2 separate regions of the Homo sapiens genome follow, and region 1 is linked to region 2. Evidence: fine-mapped expression QTL. A gene starts in region 2. The other region holds a variant in brackets. All regions are shown on one strand. Distances are from middle to middle. Region 1 has its middle 11 kb from the start of ZNF485. Region 2 holds the start of ZNF32 (zinc finger protein 32).

Region 1 (2,903 bases), 54 kb before region 2:
TTTCTCTTCATCCTATGTACAAGGCTGCGTTGGTGCCTGTAGTTTCTTTCCATAAAGTCTCCACTCCTCAGCCTGTGGGATGATAGAGATTAACACCATGGCCTTCGGGTGACTTAGATTTAAAGTCATATCTTCCTGTGGGCCAAAAGTAACCTGTGCGTGCAGTTTTTGAGGTAGGTCTCTCCCTAACAAGGGAACTGGACGGTTTAGGAGCTATAGGAATTCATGCTGAACTTTTCATCCTCCTATAACACTCCTCCTTGACTGGCAGAATGGCCTCTTCTCTGAGACTCCAGTAGCCCCTGCAATAGTTTTATAGTTCTTGGATAATGGCACTAAGGGTTGAGTTACTACAGAGTGTTCAGCCCCAGTATCTACCATAAAGTCCATCAATTGTCCTCCAACTTCTAATGTGACCATAAGCTCCTGGAGGCCCAATGAGAATGATCCTGGTCTGTCCTAGTCCTCATATCCTTCAGCCCCTGCCAGCCCGATTAGATCAGTATCTGGTTCCTCTAGGGTGCAGCAGCCCCTGGCCAATGGCCTCTTTGTCTCACAGCCTTGGCCATTTCCCTCATTGCCTTTTGGACATTCATCCTTCTAGTGTTCCTTCTTTTTACACTGTGCACATTGATCCTTCTCTAGCCTTGGTCAGCTCTTGAATCCCTGTCTAACTAGACCTCTTCCACATCCACGTCCATGTCCATGTCCTCTCACATTACTAATCTCTCTTTCTATAAGGGCTGCTGCCAACAAATTGGCCTTTTTCTTAAGCCTCTGATCTGCTTCCTTCTTTGCCTCCTGGTCACAGTTAACATACACCTTAGTGGCCACTTCTATAAGCTGGGTGGCATTCATGCCTGAGAAGCCTCCCAGTTTCTGAAGCTTTCACTTTATGTCACCCTGGGCCTGTCCTATAAATGATGTATTTACCATATGCTGATGTTCAACAGCCTCAGGGACAAATGGGGTGAAAAGCTGGTATACCCCACAGAGTCTTTCATAAAACTGGCTAGGGCTCTCATCACTTCCCTGAAGCACCTCTGAGATCTTTCCTATATTGATTGCCTCTTTTCCACCATCCCTTAGCCCTTGCAGAAGTGCCTCTTAGTACCTCTGCAAATGCTGAAGCTGGGTCACATCTTCCAGGTCCCAGCTGGGATCTTGGTCTGGGAACTGGCCCGGAGTGTATGCCTGAGCATTCACTGTGTCTGCTGGTGCATGGGCTTCAAGCTGGTGGAGAGCTGCCTGGGTTACTCTCCTGTGTTCCTCAGTGTTAAACAGTGTGAGAAGAAGCTGCCTGCAGTTTGGCCAGGTTAGATTGTGTGTCAGAAGGATGGACTGCATCAGATCTATAAGAGCTTGGGGATTCTCCATATAGGAGGGAGTATGGTGTTTCCAGTTTAAGAGATCAGTGGTTGAAAAGGGCTGATAGATGCAAGTCCGTTGCCCCCCCTGGACTTGGCCTTGGTCATCACAATAAATGGGTCCTCACGTCTCCCTGAGAGGCACTTGCATAGCTTAAGCATGGTCAGATCTGAGACGGCCTGCTTGACTATCTTGACTTCCTTCCCTGGCCTCTCGAGGCTCCGATCCTTCCCTTTGGGGTGAAACCTGGGGTGTGCTAGCTCCTGAATTTCGTTCTTGGGGGGCTGTTGGCCTCAGCAAAGGGTGGAACACATGGAGGAAGAATCTCTGCTCCTTCTGGCAGCTCCTGCAAGACTGGCTTCTTTTGCTTCCTCTGG[G/T]ACTTTCCCTTTAACTCTGTGTCTGCCAGCGAAGCTGCTCTTACTTTCATTTTTGGCTCAGCTCAGGCCACAAGTGTTTTCTGATAAGCTGCTAAACAGGGCTGGATCCAGGCCAGTCTTGTTTGTACTATATTTAACCATGAGTCAATATAAGAAATTGATCTGGATGCCCAGGCTGTCCTCCGACCCCTGTCACCACCTTAAATACATGGCCAATTATTTCCCTGTCTATAGTTCCTTTGGTCAGCCATCCAATACCAAAAGGAGGCCATTCTAATTCACAGAGAGTTCTCAACCTTTGGGGGGTCAGCTTAACTCCATAATCCCCTGCAAAATATTTCTTAAAGGTCTGTAACTTGCACTCCAATGGAGTGGGTTTTGATGACTTTCCTTCCATTCCTCCCTTTGTGGCGCAGTACACTCACTGTTCCTTTTGCCTCAGGCTGACCAGACTGTCTCCTATTGAGGGAGTTTTCAGATGCCGCTTAGCTTTGGAGGGGTTCTTATTCCCACCACAACTCTGAGCTGTGGGGCAGCTCCTATTAGTTGCATGCAGCTTGCCACTAGTCCAGGTCAGCCCCACACTTTGCTTGGAGCACACAGTGCACGCTAAGAGATTTATGACTCCCCACATCACTCCCCGCATTGGTTCCTTTTGAAACTGTTTCTTTCACACACTTTCACACACCTCCCCACTCCCAGTTCCTGTGTTCCTATTTAGGGTAGTGAGCCACTCTCACCACCTCCAATTTCCTTTTCCTAACCAACTTAGTGAGCCACTCTCGCATCCTGTGTTGGTTGGGGTGTGAGTTTAATCTAAATTGGTGAGCCACTCTCACTGCTCCCTACCTCTCTGGGTCGGATTATGAGTTACACCCCAGGAGGTGATCAGGCTCCCCTTCTGTCCTTATGGAACAGGTCCTGCCTTGGGCCCCAATACCTTACCGTGGTTCCTGAAGCATGCTGCTCCTGGTAATCCTCCTGTAGCCCCTCTCAGGTTCTGTTGCACTGCTGGGTAGGGGCACTGGGTCACAGGAGAGCCTATCTCCCCTCTGGGCTGAAGTTCTCCCAGCCACGCCTGGGGTCACAGTTTTCCCTTGACCCGGGGCTCCAGCCCCACAGGCAAAGGAGATAGTAAGCCTGTCATCTCCACTCCTG
Region 2 (2,903 bases):
GAAATGCAGTGGTTCAATGCATACTCCTTGTTTCCCTCTAATTTGTCCTATCAAAATGCTGGCCTTCTGATTTAATGAAATAATAGTATGATGCTACCATTCTTTGTTTTGTCAACCTAAGCACCTGGTTCTTCTTGACAACTGCACATTCTGCTACATGCTGTGATGACCAGGAGAATCATTTAAATTTTTATTTGGAGGACTCACTTCCAACTTGGAACACAAGCTGCAAAGGAATTCCCTACCAGCATGCCAGCACATCATTTGGAAGTTCAAGGTATTCTTGCTCAACAGCTGCACACACATTAAAAGTCCCTGGGGTACATGGCGCCTGCTGCCTGGGGTTGGACTCTGTCGCCGGGGATTCCAGAAATTAGAGTAGAATTCACAGCTCTGCCTCTCCACCTGCTGTGAGGTCTTCAAGTTACAACTCCGCCGCCTATCAGGGACCTCCGTGATTAGTAAGGGAGAAATTGTCATATTTTTCTCCCTAGATCACAGGTCTGAGGAAGCAGTTTCCCCAAGATTTTGTAAAAGTGGCTTTATAATTAAAAACATTGATTTTCCTATTAGAAAGGCTACTATATCCTTTGGAAAAAGCTTAGAAGTAGTCCGTGAGTCTTGGCTTCTTGCCGTGGCTCCCCCAGGATATGATCTTGGGCGAGTAACCCAGCAGCCCTGACTCTGCTTCCCCACTTATTAAACAGGTTACTAACACTGTCCTATCAGGTAGGACAATGAGAAGGAAAGAACCAAACAAGAGGAGTATCAGACGAGACCACCAGACTTAAGATCTAAAATCCGGCGTCCTCTGGAGGGCGGATGAGAAGAGGGGTACACTTGGCGGTCTGGAAAATGTCCTGGGGCCAGTTTCAGGTTTAGGAGCTTGTGGGTAGCGTGGTTTCCCACACGCTGCCTGGCTTCCTACTCTCCCCCGCAGGGGCTGCCTCTCCTCCCACCCCGGAAGGCCGGCACCGGCTTCCCGCACTCGCTGAAGCCCGCACGGAGGCCGGGTGAGCCTGCCGCGGCCTCCCCCTCCCACGCCCCGACGCCATGGGCCCTGCTCCTCTCCGCAGACGCTGCCCTCCCGCCTCAGGCCCCGGGCCCCGGGCACCGGGCCCGCCCTGCGTCCTGAACCTCGGCATCCCGCTCTCCGGTCCACGGGACCCTGCTCTGCGGACCGCCGACCTCTCCGCTCGCGGCTGGCCTCCCTCGGGGCCCGGGCCGGCCAGGCCTGCTCATTTCCTTGGCGGCCGCTGGCATAAGGCGGCCACACGGAGGGCCCGGGACAGCGGTCTGATGGCGCAGCCCCGCCTTGCCCCGGCGCTCTGACCCGGCCAGCGGCCTCACTCACCGCAGCGGCGCGTGCCCGCAGACAAAGGCCGGCGCCGAGCCCGCAGCAGCGCCAGCGCCGGCGCCGGCGGAATGGACTACAACTCCCAGGAGTCTCCCCGCGAGCCCGCCCGCCGGGCCGTGGGTCTCGGCGGCCCCGGCTTCCCAAGAGCTCTGTGGGAAATGTAGTTCTCTGGCGCGCCCTGCGCTCGGGCCCCGCAGGTCCCTAGGGCGCGGGGACCTCAAGCCGTCCCGTTTGGACTGGTAATCCGGAGACTCACAGCGGTGACCTGTCAGCGGACGCGGAGCCGGGACGGAGCCACGGCCGCTCAGATTAGCAGGATCTGATTGACAGCATCGGGGTAGCAGACGCTGAGCCAGGGACTCAGGAATACAGGGTTCTTGCAGGGCGTCGCGGAAGGAAACGAAGTTTTTGGGAGAAATCCGTTTGATAAAGCCTTGGCGGCTTCGAGGTCATGTGTTGAGCCTCTGGCTGCATGAACAAAAGCGAAGCCCGCTTTCATGGAGCTTCTGTGAAGAGCAACAGGAACACAGGCAGTCCAGTCGTCCTGAGATACTGGGAGGAGCATGGTTGCTTTTGAACACGTAGGAGATAAAGCCTCTCTAATAATGCCTGTTTTTTTTTTTCCTTCACTCTGTCTCCCAGGCTTGAGTGCAGTGGCACGGTGTCGCCTCACTGCAACCTCCGCCTTCTGGGCTCAAGTGATTCTCCTGCCCCAGCCTCCCAAGTAGCTGGGACTACAGGTCTGTGCCACCATGCCTGGCTAATTTTTTTGTATTTTTAGTAGAGATGAAGGTTTTACCATGTTGGCCAGGCTGTCTGATATGCCTTAAGCCTCTTTTAAACGCACTTTTCCAGGATCGGGGCCACATCCTGGAGCTGTTCTGCCTGGCCGGGTGTATCTCTGGGTCCCTGCCTCTGGAGCCCCTCTCCGTAGATGTGTCTGTCCATCCTCTTTCGTGAAGGACTAATAAAGAATGCTTCCTCTTGCTATGTTCTTGTTCTCTACCCCAAAGCCACAGATTTGTTAAATCAAACAACTTAATTTCACTCAATATGCAAAGGTGTCTGTAAGTAATAAGTTGATTCCTAAATGTTAGCTTTTACTATTGCACATCATTTCTGAATTTCATTCAACATTTATCCGTTGAATCCATTTTAAGTGCTGACACTGGGGATACGAATGTGAGCAAGACACACTCCGTGCTCCTAGGGAGGAGCTGACAGTCTGGTGGAGCAAACAAACACCACCTTCCTCACATGGGGGTCGGGGTGTTGCACAGCTAAGTCCCAGAGTGTGTGGTGCAAACTGTCCTGAAGCTCCCCATTCCTGAACTGCCCCAGGTGGCTCCTCTCCTCACTCCTCCCAAGTCTGAGAAAGGGGTGGAGGGCGGCACACAGCAAAGGCCAAGGCTCAGAGTCCTAAGGCTGCGGCCTCTGCTTCACACAAGGGTACATAGGTTCTGTTAAGGTCAAGACCGGCTGTGGACACTAGGACAAGTTTCAGATCCTGCCGTGAAGGTACATGACAAAGCATTGGTGGGAAAAG

The links. PIP is the estimated chance that this variant, and not a neighbour inherited with it, causes the effect.
Region 1: its variant is fine-mapped to the expression of ZNF32 in whole blood (TOPMed, PIP above 0.99).

The regions. Positions count from the first base shown.
Region 1 is chr10:43,593,605-43,596,507 of GRCh38, forward strand. No RefSeq gene overlaps it. Among named protein-coding and RNA genes, the nearest start is that of ZNF485, 11 kb to the right of the region's middle. RefSeq lists an enhancer at 1,952-2,031. The variant G/T (reference allele first, on the strand shown) is at 1,746.
Region 2 is chr10:43,647,448-43,650,350 of GRCh38, forward strand. It overlaps ZNF32 (zinc finger protein 32), which reads right to left and starts at 1,434. Exons shown (of 3, transcript NM_006973.3): 1 at 1,355-1,434. All of the region lies in intron 1 of ZNF32-AS3 (ZNF32 antisense RNA 3), which reads left to right. It overlaps ZNF32-AS2 (ZNF32 antisense RNA 2), which reads left to right. Exons shown (of 3, transcript NR_047558.1): 3 at 122-572. RefSeq lists a silencer at 940-1,459.